2 separate regions of the Homo sapiens genome follow, and region 1 is linked to region 2. The links come from fine-mapping of genetic effects on gene expression. Tissue or cell type: T cells. Region 2 holds a variant in brackets; the other region holds the start of a gene. All regions are shown on one strand. Distances are between the middles of the regions.

Evidence for each region. PIP is the estimated chance that this variant, and not a neighbour inherited with it, causes the effect.
Region 1: EHF starts here. The variant in region 2 is fine-mapped to the expression of EHF in T cells (TOPMed, PIP above 0.99).

The regions. Positions count from the first base shown.
Region 1 is chr11:34,617,282-34,625,465 of GRCh38, reverse strand. EHF (ETS homologous factor) reads right to left here and starts at 4,373. Exons shown (of 9, transcript NM_012153.6): 1 at 4,238-4,373. RefSeq lists a cis regulatory region at 6,073-6,472.
Region 2 is chr11:34,647,195-34,655,378 of GRCh38, reverse strand. EHF (ETS homologous factor) reads right to left here. Exons shown (of 9, transcript NM_012153.6): 4 at 6,298-6,360; 5 at 3,769-3,837; 6 at 3,574-3,642. Among named protein-coding and RNA genes, the nearest start is that of EHF, 30 kb to the right of the region's middle. RefSeq lists an enhancer at 4,486-4,735. The variant C/T (reference allele first, on the strand shown) is at 4,765.

The DNA.
Region 1 (8,184 bases), 30 kb after region 2:
AAGCAAGCTCATCAGTACCATACAAACTCAGTAGACACCACGAGTGCCTAAATGTCCATTTTCTGGCGGGCTGCTTTGGCGTTTTATAGAAGACACCAGTAGAGCACCTGCCCCTGTGCATAGGCTGTTCCCTGCCATCACAAAACAGTCTGTTTCATCCACTTCTACATTCCCACCAGCTTGAGACACATGAGGCAAATTGGCAAAGCTGGGATGTTGTCATGGGAGTGGATTCTAACATCCTTAATAAAGGCTCCAGGTGTCAGGTCTTAGTACCTCCACTAGTATAGCCTTTAGCCAAAATTCTGAAGGCCCTAAAGAATCCATTTAAGGGCTCTTGCTAATCTTTCCTGCCTCATCCTTAGAAGGCTTCTCCCACCTGTTCTCAGCTCTCACAGATTCGTGCTTATCCTGCTGACCCCCAGGTACTCCCACCACCCCCAATCACCACAGCCACAGAATCTGAGGGTTAAAATGGATCTTAAAGATGGTCAGGTTCAAACCCTTTTGCCTAGAGGAGGAAACTAAAGCCTGGCAAAGGGGAATGTGTGCTCTGGGACACACAGCTCTGCCAGTGCTAGACCAGGTCCCTAGACTGCCGTCCAGCACACCACCTCACATCCCGCCTTCCCTGCACTGTGCTCCCATCACTCCAAAGCTGGAGTTCAAAATTCTTCAAGGAAGACTCTTAAAGAAATATTTCCACCCCCCTCTGAAGAATAATAAACATTTTAGCAAATAACTCTGAGGGATCCCTGGAAATTTCTACTTCAGCACATCCTGGTTTCCGGACATCAATGTCATTTGGCTTGAAACTATGTCCCACCCTAAGAATAGCTGTGGTGAGGAGCCATTCTCCTCACTGCACTGTTTGTTTCCTGCACAGCTTAGTAGCTTGGCCCTTTGAAACCCCGTTCAATTTAAGTAAACACGTTTTTAATAACAGCAAGATTGTTTGCTCTTTAGAACAAATCTATTATTTTAAAATCATATTCTTAAAAATTAGATATGAAAAATGTCAAATAAAGTTAATTATCTATGCCCTCCTTTCAGTTATAGAGCAAGAGATTTAAGAGAACCTGGGCAAGGTGTGGCTGCCCTCCTGCCTCTGTCTTCAGATGGCAATCCCCGCCGCAGACCCGGCTTACCCAAGCTGAAAGCCACAGCGCCGCGTTCGGTTTCCCAGTAACAAAGGCAGGGTGAGAATGTGGTCTCTAGACACCCAGGCTGCAGTGGAGCCAATGCCTCCCAACCAGGGCCCCACCCACAACAGAAATGAGTGTCACGTCAACTCTACCAGAGAGCGATCTTAACAAGAGAAATGGGCTGAAACGGCAGCAAAATGGTATCCCTGAAAATCAGGTTCAAGCTTTAGATTGAGTTCCTTAAAACCACAACATTGCTTCTCAAGTGTGTTAGCAGATTCTGCCACGGGATTCTTGCTCACCACCCCACCCCTAACCCAGAGGTCTTCGTAAATCACATCTGTATGAAAGGGCATAGAGATGACTCCATATGGAGGAAGGGAGAAAAGACAATAACTTCTCAATAATTTGTACAAGCTTCTATGTCTGTGTTTGATACTGTGACATGAAGCAGGGGTCTTGCCCTGGGCTTTCAGAAAAGCAAGATGGTCTAACGATCACAACCCAGTGCTCAAATCCCCAAATTTGTGGAGATTGGGTGGGTCGGGGGCATGGGAAAGATATAGAGGAAATAAAATATCGCAAGATTCCAGAAAGCGAAATTCTACTTCCTCAGAAGTGAACTTTGGCCAAAAGCACTCACGTTCTGACCTGAGACCCGATAGGAGCTCCTTCCAGTTTCCAATTCGCTAATTGAATGCAACCTAGTAAACCTTTTAACCTCTCAGTTTCCATTTTGTCTCATACCTTCAAGGAGTCAGAAAGATATTGAAAGAAGATCAGGGTAAAGTTGGTCAATTAATGGGAGCATTTAGGGTACCCATAAACATGGAATCGCGAGTGGGAATGTAGGGCTTTCCTGACGTCCACAAAGGCCAAAGATACTTCCACTGGGAGATCACGATAGACTAATAGATTAAAAATGAAAACAATATGGCTGGGCACGGTGGCTGAAGCCTATAATCCCAGCACTTTGGGAGGCTGAGGCAGGTGGATCACCTGAGGTCAGGAGTTCAAAACCAGCCTGGCTGACATGGTAAAACCCCGTCTCTACTAAAAATACAAAACTTAACTGGGCATAGTGGCGAGCACATGTAATCCCAGCTACTCGGGGGGCTGAGTTGGGAGAATCACTTGAACCTGGGAGGCGGAGGTTGCAGTCAGCCAAGATCATGCCACTGCACTCCAGGCTGGGCGACGGAGACTTCATCTCAAAAAAAAACCAAAAAGGATTGTTTGAATTGAACAAATAGGTGCTTTTTAACCAAAAAAATAACAAATACAATTGAATTTGAGCCTTTTCATAACAAACGAGGCCTGAATCAAACACGTCACCCTACCCACACTACCTTGAGAGGTCTTGATGAAGGCTACCATCTTGCGCGGTCATGTAAGAGAACTTACAGCACAGCTGTTCCCTCAAAGTGACTTTCATTTAAAATGCCTCTGTAAAATATTTTGGAAACACGGTGAAGTATTGTCTCCATTACATTTATTATTTTTTCAAGTTCAACTACAGACCTCCAAATGACTCCCAATTCACATTCCATCATGGTTTTTAAATACCATTAGCCATTTGTGTGAAAATGGTGTTGTCTACATGACTCCATATTATAAGAAGATGGAATTGGTGAGTTATTTCATCATCCCAGAATTTTAGGTCACAAAAAGAGGAAAAGTGGATCCTCTGCAAACTTCAAATGCAGCTATTAAAGTCATCCTTAAAATCTCTTAAGAGCCTTTTCTGATAGTATCTCCTAGCCATGAAATTCTTCCTAATAACGTATCTTCTTCTTTTCTGTTAGAAATAAATTTTTCCCCTGACCCCAGTGGAATTAACACACAGTCACACAGAATCTCTAATTGCCCTTTTACACATTGAAAGACTATCAACACATCTTTACCTCCATGGCTGCAGAACCAACTCCTGAATTAGACTTCCATCAGTAAGTTCTTGGAATCCATTCACTCACTTTCTCCCTGTTACCAAGGTGAGTGCAGATAACCAGCAGAGACACCTGTGAACTTGAACCCAGAAGCATACACTCTCCATCTTAAAAACACACACTCCCACCATCCTGGGAGCATGGTAAATCAGCAAAGATGGACGGTGAAAATGTCGCTTTCTCACCTCAGCCTGATATTTACCAACAAGAAGTTAATTTCCCACTGTTCCCAGATCAGTCCACATTGGGGCTAACACTTCTCCACAATGTCCAAGCAAAATCAAAAGAATCCCTGTCTCAGAAGGCATTTGTTGCTGCTGAGTCACAACTGCCTGTCTGATCATAGTCTCCCAAAATGGAGTAAACAAAGGGTTAGTTTGTCCCCTTGTTACACAGTGAAGCCCTTTGCCAAAACTGATTGTTGTATTTTCTGGACAAAATGGAGTAAACAAAGGGTTAGTTTGTAAACAAAGGGTTAGCTTGTCCCCTTGTTATACAGTGAAGCCCTTTGCCAAAATTGATTTTTGTTTTTTCTGAATTTTTGTTTTTGTAGATATTCAGCTCTCCCCAATACCTCTGCCTGCCTTGGCTGCCTGGCCACTTTTTCCAGTGTGATTGTGTATGTTCTTGCCTATTTCTAGCCATTTTCCAGTCCTGGAACATATTAAAAACAAATTGGCCTTTCCATGTAGCTCATAAGTCAGAAAAATTACCAGCAGAAGACATCTCTAGAAAGCGAGACCGTGTACTCTGAGCCCTAACAGCTACTTAGCCAACCACTTCTTCTCTGAGCTATATCAGAGCCACCTATCTCTAGCTGCCTATTTGTTCCAGAAGAATTCAACCCAGGGGAATGGTTTTGCCACCCAGGCATAGGGAAACGAGGGGGCTTTTAAATTCACAGAGATTAGAAGTCCAGACAATGCAGGAAATTCACAGATAATATCCAAAGTAGCCAACCTGCCCTCCAAAATAAAATTCTGATTTGACCCAGTGAGGTAAGCCCAGGTAAGGTGAGCTTCACTTCCTGCCAGCCGTCTCCAAGAGTCTGTTCTAGTTTCATCTGTCCAGTTTAAAGCAGGCTTCTCTTTCCACTCAAGTGTTTGGATTCCAGATTCAAAAGAAGTTTTAAAAATCAGGACTTACCTCATTTACCTAAAGATTCTGGGTGGGAAATCCAATAGCTGTGGCTGTTGGAGGGGAGGCAGCAGGCTGCAATCTCACCAGCTCCTATAGGGATGGGGCACCACGGGTGTTATCAAGTCTGAGCCCTCATCAGAGTGAAGATAAATGCATATAACAATAATTTTAAATCATTTTGTAGGATGTTAAGCAATAAGCCACCAACCGGGAATTCCCTAAGTCACTTCCCCCTCTTCTGATTGGCTACCCAGCCCTTTAAAAAAATAAAATAAAGGATTACAAACACTGGCTCATTTGCATTTGGCCAACTCACACGTTAGTGTTCAAACAAAACAGGTCTAACCAGGTAATGCCTGTGTCTCAAGAACAGAGAGACAACCTGTTAATGGATGAGGAATTGATTTGGTGGTGACTGTTCTTTTCAGCTCAGAGGCTGTTTCAGGTGAAAAGCACCCTGCTCACCAAAGACACCATCGGGAAGAGGGAATGTAAAAGCAAAGTGAGTAGAAGTCCAAATCTGGAGGAGATGATGGTATGGAGGGGCCCTCTTGAGCACCTGTCTCATTTATTAGTCTGTATTTAGTCCACCCTGCTTTGGCATCAAGATCTTTTCCCTAGCTCTATAAGTACCAGGCTCTGAAGGGGCTCCCAGCAAGTTCCCTCTCCAGGCACCATGACTGCCTTCTTGACAGAGACTCTTGGCAATTCAATGGACTTTGAAAAGCCTATCTCCCCTGGCCCCAGGTAAGAGCCTTGAGAGGTTTGAAAGGGAAGGTCCTGGGAGGGAGGGTACCTTATGAGGAGATGCTTAGGTCAAGCAGTCAACTCTCAAATATGCAAGAGCTGATTATCCGGTTGGTGGATTATCTAGGTTCTTCACTTCCTCTTGACACTTACATGATCTTTTTTAAAAGGTTTATTGACACTCCCTATAAGAGTTAGAGATGAGAAGACCAAAATGCTGAAACTGGAAATAAAAAAGCACAGTTTGGACAAGAAGAAGGTGGAATATTAGGGAGGATCTACGGATTCAAATACCCAGGCAACCTCTATTCCCTTGGGCCAAGGGACATATGGGGAGTTACCTGTACCTGCTTCACTGGGTCACAAATGTACCTTCTCCCATACGGGTGAATGACTGCTCCTAGCAAAGAAAAATACCATCCCCCAACCATTAACTTTCTCTGTTGAACCTTCCAGGACACTGGCCTGGCATGAGCAAAGTGTCTAAGCAGATTTCTTTGACTCAACGGGCCTCCCTTTTGTGGGAGAGGGAAGGGAAGTTGAGATTTGGCAGAGATAAAGATTTTGTGATCAAAACCAAGAAGTTACTTGTGTTAAAAAGAAAAAAAAAGGTCTGCTTATGGTCAAAGGCTGACTGAATAGAATAAAAACTGGTTATTATATTAAGGGGGAACAGTGAGTGTGCAGTAGTATTAGTCTTTTCTTACTTATTTTTTCTAGTTTCTACACAAATTCAGAGGTTTCTGAAAGTGTAAAAGACTCAGTGGGAAAACAAGGGTGGACTTGGGAAGGTCTTGGAAGCTGGGCAGGTCTTGAAGAAGGGCTTGAGGCTTTGGTCAGTGCAGTTTAGGGGAGTTCTAATAAATCCCTCTGCCTCCCTAACCTGCCCCAGACATTCCCACCCTTCCCAACTGTTCAACCCTGTGAACTTGCCAAGGGCCCTGTGAAAATGCAAATGTAAACCCCGCCCCATATACACACTGATAAAAACAACAAATTTCATTATTTCCCATTATCACATTAGCCCCAATTAGTCTATCAGTTCCAGATCTGAGAGCAGGGCCCTGAGGGAATGGCCTGCTGGAGTTTTGCTTGAGAGACAAATCAGGCACAACCTGAAGTAACTACATTCCACCCACTGCAGGGCATTTGTGTGTAGTGATGGTGAAGGGGGGTGGGTGGCGGGGCACTCATGAGAAAAGGGAAGCATTATTGCTAGAGCCCGTGGGACTCCAGGGAAACAAACTTGGCCTTCTTTACACCATTGCCTGAGATTAACCTGAGACAGCAGGGTGGGAGTAGAAGGGCTAGGGTTGTGTGGTCAAGAGATAGTGAACTTCAAATGCAACCACAAAAGTGATGTGGCTCTCTGACCCAGTCCCAATCACCTTTAATTATAGGCCCTGTAATTTATAGCTGAAGAATTCTGGTTAAATCTCCATTTCTTTATCCACTTGTATTTAGTCCATTTTAGATTGGAGGGCTATTGAGACGAGTCATATTGGGGTAGTGATGGTGGGAGGGGAGGGAAAGATGTCACCTCATACTCACAAGCCACTTTATTTGTGGAGGTTTTTTTGTAAATAAAGTACCTAAAAGTGTGCCTGCTACTTGCTGGGTACTTATTAAGTATTGATTCTTCTTTTTACTTGGGTCTTAGTTGAACCTTCCAGAAGAAAAACAAAAATGAAAACAATACCCCTCACCCCCAACCTAAAAAAAAAAACACAAAAAAGCTAGAATTGCAGGTATATTGCATCCATACGGAAAGTCCTTTGGAGTTTGAGGTCTTTCACCCTACTGCCAACTTCAACAAGACAGTACTGGCGATAGATAGATAGATGATAGATAGATAGATAGATAGATAGATAGATAGATAGATAGATAGATAGATGATAGATAGATAATGATGGGATGAGATGGATGTCTCAAGGCCTTCTACTACAAGTCTCAGATATATCAAGTATGTCCTTTATGGATAAGAAGTTTAAAGTGTAATCACAAAATCATCAAACACAGCAGATCCTTAATATGGACACATTGTAAGTTCTCAAGGAGGACTCTGGCAAGAGAGACCTCCAGCACTTGTTCTGTGCTCCTGAATTCTCTGGGGGGCTGATAAAGACATAGCAAAATGAACAGAGTGATAAACAAAGCTGATTGTCTTTATTCTGTGGATGGGAAGAATCAAGAGAGAGAGGCCAAGCAGCTTGCCCTCAAATCAACTGAAACAAACTCTAGAAACCCAATTACTCTGCATAGAAATCTTCCTGGTTGTCCCTACAGGTCAAGGCCCTATCACCCTCTCCAACCTGTGCACAGACACAGAGCCCTTGAGTTGAGTCCTGTGCTGGTCCCCACAGAGGAAAAGGGGAACAGAGCAAAGCAAACCAGGTTGTGTGTGGTGGCCTGGAGACCCGGAGGTCAGTCGGGTTGTCTCCTAGAAGATCCATACTGTAAAACCAAAAACCCTAGGGATCTTAATTCCCAAATCAAGGCCAGGACAAAGAATCTCTTTAAGCCAAGTATCAAGCATTAAGGAATCTGAGTCTTAACACCAACACAGGCTGTGGCTACAAGATTAATGGAAGCTGTGTGCTTGCTTTGCAAGAAAGAGGATGCTCACACACTTTACACAATACCTTTTAACTAGAGGGCCTATATTTATTTTTGAAAGCAAGTGTGTGTTTGTATATATTTCTGTCTATCATCTCCTCCTAATGACGTGGTGTTACCTCCAGGGCAGAACACGGCATCTATTTAGTGAAAGCCGTACAAGAATATTAATGTAAGACCAATGGGAAGAAGAAACTCCTTCTGGTCTTGTGAAACTTATGGGGAGGGGGAATTAAATCGAGCAGAATATGATCATTTATTATACTGGTTACAGTCAAATAAGCAACAGAATTAATAAGTATCATTTTGCTTCTTAATGCTACTCCCCTCTAAAGGTCACATTTCCCAAATCTTTTGGTTTTGGATTAGATGAGGTTCCTGGGGATCTTCATTATCCTCTAAGGACAAGCTTTACGGTCTCTGAAGGGGGCACCTGAGTTCTGTTTGGGAGGTCACACGTTGACAGTTGTTCTAACAGGTTGATGTGACACACACCAGCAATGCCTCCTGACATTATGTCTGTGTGCCTGCATTCTGAGCAAATCCTGGCCCAATGGCATGTGCCACTGGCGTGCCAAGGTGGGGGCCAC
Region 2 (8,184 bases):
AAAAGATAATTTCAATCTGACAATTCTATATTTCCCAACGTTCATGGGCCCTTTCAACCATCTTATCACCCAGCTAATCAAGACTCAGTGTTCCCAGCAATTTCTCGAAACGTCATGGCAGGATGGAGAGAGGGATTTAATAAGACCTCAGTAAACAAGAAACCTCTCATCCTGGTTAAGAATTTCTCTCCTGGCATTGTCACTAGCAGGGCCTGCACCTGACTTGGGTTTCTCTGAAATCCGAGAGGACAAATTCACAGGAAATGCAAGGAGACTTCACTCTCCCTCCCTGTAGGTTGCAGGGTGAGGTTGCAACATCCCATCAGGATGTGACAATATTGCGACAGGTCTGGCATCCACCCCGGTTTCCAAGTGATACATCACTCTGACAGGGCCACGTTGTACTGCAGACAAAGAGTGGCATTTACCCAGCAGGCCACAAGCAAAGCTCATTTTCAAATGACATCCAGGAGGGATGCAGGGCCATTATTTCAGAGCCAGGAGTTGAATTCAGAAAAATACAAGAGTCTCTCAGTATATTGGCCTCAATTATTGTTTGTGGGTTCCTAGTTGATCTAGAATCAGTTACTTCAGAGTTCAGGTGCCTTTGTGAATAAGACGAAAACCTTGGACCCTCTCCTCAGAAAAAAATGCACATATATGTACACATGAAATTTTGTCAACAATTTCAGGGGGCTGTGGCCCATGCAGCAGTCCATGGACTCTAAAACCTCTACACTAGATAAACCATGAGGAAATATTCTTTGAGTTGTCAGCCGTTTACCCAAGCTAGGCTCCACCCAGCTAGGAACGTTCTTTTTTTAATCCCCAAATAAAAATCTTTCCATCATCATAAAGGGGAATAAGCAGTCAAAGGCAAAAGAAGAACCTAATTTCTTCCAGACCTCTCTGCCTGTTGCAGTGTGCAGGGGTAAGCCGTGGAATCACTGGCCTGCTTTACCACTGATATCTTTTGATCTTTAACCTCTCTTTAATATGTGTCCTTCTTCTGCCCTAGGATAAAAGTCAAGACCTTTGAAGTTAGCCATGTGGTTAAGTGATTCATTCTTATAAAATAATGGCTTGCCCTGGAGAAGTTGTCCAGCCTGGCTTTCTCTTGCTTGGCTCCCAGGCACTCCAGGCCAAGGTCCTATCCAGTCCAGGCAGGGGCAGCAACAAGCCACAGGTTTGTGATGCAAGTGAGAGAGCGTGACTTCAGCTAAGCTGCTTCGCAAGAAGCAAAGATTAGAAGCATTTGCATATGATTCAGCTGTGAGCCATTTCTTTACGGGATATACAAATTTCAGTGTTCTAATAGACCGTGCCACCCTAGCTTTAGGCTCAACAAGTCAGTGGATAAACACATCAAGCCCGAGCTGGCATGACAGGCTGGAGGACTGTCGAGCAGAACAGGACACCGGCAGCGGGCATTTTATGAAATGGGCAGATGACAGAGAAATCAAAACAAAGCCTATTTCCCCACCTGCGTTTATCACAGAGGGCATCAGTTTACGCTGGGCCTCGCCTTAGCTCAGCTGGTAACTAGCATTAAAACATAGAAAGATATTTCACTGCATTCAATTACATGGGAGCTCGAAAAATAAAGACTCAGGCAAATGACCAAGGTTTTTCCGGGGTTCTGCTTCCATGCAGTAGAGACTATAAACTATTCTGAAAGAAACTGACCCATATAAGGCTGTAATTAACTATCCTACTGAAGGGCTATTACCCCAATGAATACACCAACCCCAGAGACTGCATTGATTCTTTAGGGCCTGGGTGATTGATCTCATTTTCCAGCCTGGGTTACAATCACAGGATAGAAATGGGGAGCTGCAGCAAACAAGGATCAGAAGGGTAAGGAGAGAAGATTCCTGAGCCCATCTTAAGAAGGACTATTGAAAAATACAATCGGTGGACTCAGGAGAGAGCGAGTTCCTTGCTACTGCAAATGCAAAAGCAGAAACTGGCCTCTAAGGCCCCTATTGATTTTGAGATTCTAGAAGGTGTAAGTCAAGATGTAGAAAAGAGGATGGCCCAGCTGTCAGGGCAGCAGAGCTGTAACTATGATGTTTTTGTTTCCCGGGTGCCTCAAGACCTACTAGCCCCTGAGGCTCAGGAAGTGGTTGGTTCAGCTTTATTCTTAGTTGGAATTTTTTGCCGTAAGTCAAAGACCCAAGTGGAAGGATGGAAGGATGGAAGGATGGAAGGATGGAAGGATGGAAGGATGGAAGGATGTGGGAGATGACACTGTAGGAAGTCGCAGAGGAACTCAGAGTGTGACTTGGGAGGTTTCCTCAGCCCTGAACCCCATGGTCTTGACTGAGTGGCAATGATTGCCACAGAAATTTTACCCCGGTTGGCTCAGTTCCCCCAGAATAGCAAATACACAGCCAAGCCTTGCCAGTGTTTGATCTATTCCCTAATTTTAACAAATACCTCAAGTGACACATAATGCTAAGGACCACTGGGGGAAGGAGAAGTCGAGAGCTATGCTGGCCTCAGCTCTTAATCTCAATTCCAGAAGCATTTACATTGGCTCCCAGCCCCATCTCATTTAAGGGGCTTGACCCAAACAAAACCTCAAACCAAAACCTTTCATTATTTCAGTTCTCAAAAGCAAAAACAAAAACAGAAAAAAAGAGGAAGGAAGGGTTGCAGACTAATTTCTTTCACAAAGACCCAATTAAATCCCATTTCTGAAGTTGCTCCAAATTTAATTCCAGGAGAGAGGCACTATCACTTGTGACTGATGTCTAAGTGCCATTTCATAGACCCAAAGAGATCCACAAGTTCATACTCAGATCACGGGAAACCATAAGATCCTCTTTCAACCATTTCCCACACTGTACACGCCAATGCACCTATTTGTAGGTGGGGGTGGTAATCTGAAATCCCCTCTCCCAGACTCCCAACATCCCAAACTTCTCACCCAGTGTAACCTTGGTTAAGGAGCATGGATAGCCCCAGTTGCATCCAAGCTTAACCAAATGCAGCTAAAGTGAACGTAACTCATAAAATGCAGGTGCTCTGACTGATTAGAGAGCACTGATGAGTCATCGGAATTAGACTTAAAAACTGACAAAATAGTGTAACTGTGGGGATTCTGGAAGTTTCCAATGGCTACCCCTTCACCCAGAAACTATCACTACAGGTTCACGGACCTTTGAATTTTACTATGAGGTATTCTTTCTCTAAAGCCAAATGTAGTTTGTTGAAAATTAAATATAGCCTTATTTCCCATAAGTATACCCAAATATGAATAATTTTAGCAGCTATATTGCAAGAGTAAGTTTTCATTGAAAATAAAGAAAAGCCTAAACAACTTTTATTGTCACAACAGAGTGACTAGTTTCGTAGGAGACCAACATTTTGCCTAGAGGATCCCTACGGGTCATCTTCGATGTACAAATATTGCCTCAAAAGCAAACCTCGTCTAATGGTAACCCCATCCCTTTCCTAGCCCTTTAATTAGAAAGACTCCAGAAAGGCAGAAATGTAGAGTGTTGGTAATTCCCACTGATTCTCCCTAAGCATTAGGCATACCCAGCCTCAGATGTGATGACAGCTTACCAACAGGAAGGTGACTGGTGGTTGTCATGGAGATCTGAGCCCGGCAGAAAGTTTTGCTGTCCAACAAATCTGTGGCCATGAAAAGATAAAGGACATTTAGAGCACCCCCTCCCCCCACCTCACAATAGAACACTGTGGCTCTTAGACAAACTGAATAAGAATGTAAAGGGCCTTAAGTGTCAGGGAGTTAGTTACCTACTGTGCTACCATAGTTGGTGTCATATAAATAGTTCTCGTCTTTCCAGGTGTTCATGATGGAAGGCTCTACAAAAAATAGAGAAGGAGAATAGTCAGCGATCTCTTTTCCCCAGGGAGAAGAGGCTGCGTTTTCTAATTCATTGTTCATCAACAAAGTATGGGGGGTGAGGAGTGGTCCTCAGAGACAAGGGATATGATTCTGCTTCAGCTGCGTTACTTTATAATAATGTTGTCTAATTTTCCTTTCAGCATCCTCGGGGAAATGGCCTCATCCATGTGTTCTGTACCTATTGCATTTTTAGGGAAGTGAGAGAAGTTGCAAGAATGGGAACCTGTCCTAGACCAAGTGGTTCCTGGGAATTTTCCTAACCTGGCTTGGCTTTGTTCTGCATTCTACTGCATAATCACCAGAATATTTTTACCCTAGAGTGTGGTGGGGGGGAAGGCCTTGTTAGGGATTAATTTATTTAAATGTATAATAAATAATTAATGAGGCCTTGGGGGGTTAATGATATTTCTTTCAGGAAGAGTCTTGTCAATCTTATCACAGTTTCTTCCTTGCTGAAATCCAGAGATTTGTCATCCAAGTTGGGTGACAGCCCCCTCCCTCTAGGATTTTTCCAATTAGCTTAAAGGATGACATAAAATTCTCAAAACAAAACCAAGGAGAAGGGGTGGACTGTGTTACTAAATCAAACAAACACCTTTTAAGAGTGAAGCCCCACTGCCCCATCGCAGAAAAGAAGTGCTCTTGTACTCTGTCTCTCTTTCTCTTTCTTCTGTGTGCTGCGGTAAACACCTCTCACTTTGACTGACTCTTCAGATTTCAGATTCAAAGGGAACTCCCCTCCACCTACCCCAAATGGAGCTCAACTCCTACGCAACCCCCAGATCTGGGCTGGTCTCCAACAGAAGCATTTTGTTTCTTGGCTAGCCAAAAGCTGTAAGATCTCTCACCTCGTCCTCACCAGAAACTTCCTGCTTTCTCCTCAC[C/T]GCAGACCTAGGTTACCCTCAGCTCCCCTCCTTGCTGGGTTCTGAGTTTTAGGGCCGGGGTGTAAGCCACTGACTGAGTTTCATTTTGTTTTTATAGCACAAATGATACAAAACCTGACTTACTGGCTAAGTCCTCGTGTTTACGACATAGGGATTTAGCCGGTATTTTAGCTAATAGCTACATGTTTGGACACCCCAAGCCCAATCTCTTGGGGTTACACCCTCTCTCCTTGTTGGGTCACCTTGTACACCTGTTGTTGTCTCTGAAAACAAACTGAACCAAAGAGGTATGGGGGTGTTGGCCCCTCTATGAGCTTCTTCTCCCCTCCTCCTAGGGTGGACCTTCTTCTCCACCCTTCCACTCAGCTTTTCTGAACTGGCAACACAAGAATGTCTGGATGGTCAAGAAGGAATTATCAAGTTATTTGGGACCTCTCCAGTATTACCCTGGCTCCTTCGGTGGGGCTATCTGACAGGTCAAGCAGGGGAGGGGGTGCCATCCTCCTGACCAAGTCCTGCATCCATCTCTAGGGCAAGGCCAGGCCTGTAAAGCACAGAACATCCAGATGGCCCATCCCCTGGCCTCTGAAGAGAAAGGCAGGGCTAGCAAAGCCTAATTTGCATGCTTAGCAGCTATTGCTTTTTTCTTTAATAATGGTAGGCCAGCCCACTTATGAAAGGGTAAATAACTGCATGGGCCAATTTTGGCCCCAAGTGACTCACAAATCACCTGCAGGTCAAATTCTGTCCTTGGTGACTGGGACACATCCTCAGGGAGGTCTATGGAAAGCTTGGTTGGCCCACGTGGCTCCCAGGCTCCCAGGCATGAACATGGGGAGTGACTTAGGAGCAATAGTTGCTGCACAGTTTTATGATGGCTCATGGACTTTGGAGGACAGTCTCCAGGAGAGAGATTTAGGACAGGGGAAAGGAAACGAAAATGAATGTAGATGCTATGGGACTGTAGACTCTGCTCAGAGCCCAGCATTTTGTCCTTCATATAAAAACACACCTAAGGCAGGAGCTGGGTTGCAGGTACCTTTGTACATCTCTGCAGAAGCTCCCCAGGGCCCCTAAAAATTTGTTAACTACAATACCAAGTTAGTATATTCACCCTTTTTGTGAAACACACACCCATCAAGGGAGGAGGGAGAGAAGAGGAGACATTGCCCCTTCCTCTTCTCTTTCCAAACTTGGCCACTCCCCTGACACTTTTTAAGGTGGGGAGGCCCACCATATATTCTGCTTTTCCTTGGCTGCTGGCCTGAGGTCTGGATGATGCCACAACCAGGAGTAGGAGGCAGAGAAGTGTGGCTCCCCATAAGTCTATAAATTGGAAATAGGTGGCAGTCACTGGTCGCAAGGGCAAGAATGAGATTCATGGTGGGGGTGGCCCATCAGAGACAGCCAGGGAAAAGGCCTCCCTGTGTTTCCTGCAAAAACTTGCCCCCACATTCTCTCTTGCCCTCTCCCAACTGTCCTCCCCGGAGCTTTGCCAGGCTAGGTTGGCTCCCTTTGTCCACTACTACTCACCAGTTTGTTCAGTCTTGACAATGACATTGTGTGTGGACTGGAACAGGTCACTACTGCACTGGCCTGTGAAGGACAGATTGGGATAGTCAGAGAGGGCCCAGATGGAGCCAGAACTGGATGCTTAAATAAGGACAGAACTGGCATCTTTGCAGAGCTTCTGCCATCCTACTGCCTGGTCACCTATGTTTGTTTATGGGAGGTGGTTTCTCTGTCAGCCTCTACAAACTCAAGCCTGCAGTCTCTGACCCCAGAAAATTGGGAATCTAAGGCACTACCTTAGAAGCAATTATTTGATGTGGTATAGTAAAGGCATTCAGTATGGTGGAAATAGAACTTCAGAAGCCCAGTTTTTCAACTACTAGCTATGAGGAAGGTGTGTGCACTTTACCTTTCTGGGTCTCAGTTTCCCCATCTGTAACAAGATTAAACTAGATAAGGTCACTAGATGACTTCTAAGGTGCTTTCCCATACTAAGATATGATATGAAAATGAAAATGTAGGGAAAAACCTTTTTAACTAGCTTGATTCTTCTTTGATTTAAAATCTAATCAATGCCATCATGATTACATCCAATCTGTGAGATATGTCTGGATAAAATGTGGTGACTCTTTCCTTATTTATGCCTCAGCACATGTACAAGCAGTACACATCACATGACCTTGTTTGCTTGCAACTCCTCTCCCATTATCATATATAAAAGCATATATATGTATGCTTATATATATATATATATATTTGTAAATGCATATGAATCTAGTCTGTTTTCTTCCCCAGACAGATTCTAAACATCTCAAGAACAGAAGCCATGCCTTTAACCTCTCTGACATTCAGTCTTCCCACCTGTAAAATGGGCACAATATTTACTTTGTCATAAAGTTATTAAATGAATTAATTCACTTACAGTGCCTAGTATAAGTAAATACTCAATAAATGTTAGTTGATAGAAGGTCTACACAAAGGCAAACAACAAAAGAGTGAGCAATCTGCCTGGACATTAGGAACTCAGAGGCTACAGCAGCATGCGATGAGACCAAACAAGTCATGGGAAGTCAGAGACAGAAGGTCTAAGATGGCCACAGCACCTCCCAGGCCTCCCTGCCTCAGACCTCAATCAGGGCAAAGCTTTAAAGGAGTGGATTTAATTGGGGGGTGGAGGTAAATATTTTTAATTCTTCAAGTGTAAGTCTGATCTTTTTGAAGATCCCTGAGGGTTATTTATAGAGCCTTGTTTGGTTTGATTCTAGTCAAAGAAAAAAGAGCAGCCACCAATGTGAGGTGGGTGGGAAGCAGGGCATGGCCAGGGAGCTGAATGACATCATCTAAAATGGCCACCGCAGCCACAAGCTCTGCTGCAAGGCCCCAGGTCCTCTTCAGTGTTGATGGCTGTTGCCAGGGTATGACTCTGGTTCACAGCCCTGGAGCTCATGCCGCCCAAGTCCCGGTTACTTGCCCAAACATGGGTTCTACCAAGACATAAATGCCTTTTCCAGTGCAGACAGGCCAACTCCCTGTTCTTAAATATTGCTACTTTTCAGGATGCCCATAGTTCTCAGAAGAGCTAGATTTTTACAGCCACTATCAGGGGAACCTTATGCCAGTGTCAAAACCATTCTGCAAGGTCAGTTGTCCACCCTACTAGGTCTTACATGTCAGTATAGGATATGTTCGTGTATGAATAATCTACCACTCAAAGACAACATCTGGAATGGTGGCCCATCCCTGTGCTAGGGGAAGCCTCAGAGAGACATCTGGGGCATTAGGGCAACAGAAATTCCAGAAACCACCACAGAAACATTCCCCATACACGTGTCTAGACCATATGTTCTAACCCTTTTTTTAAGTTACAGACCTTTTAAGAATCTGCTGAAGTATTGTGAGTTTTTTCCC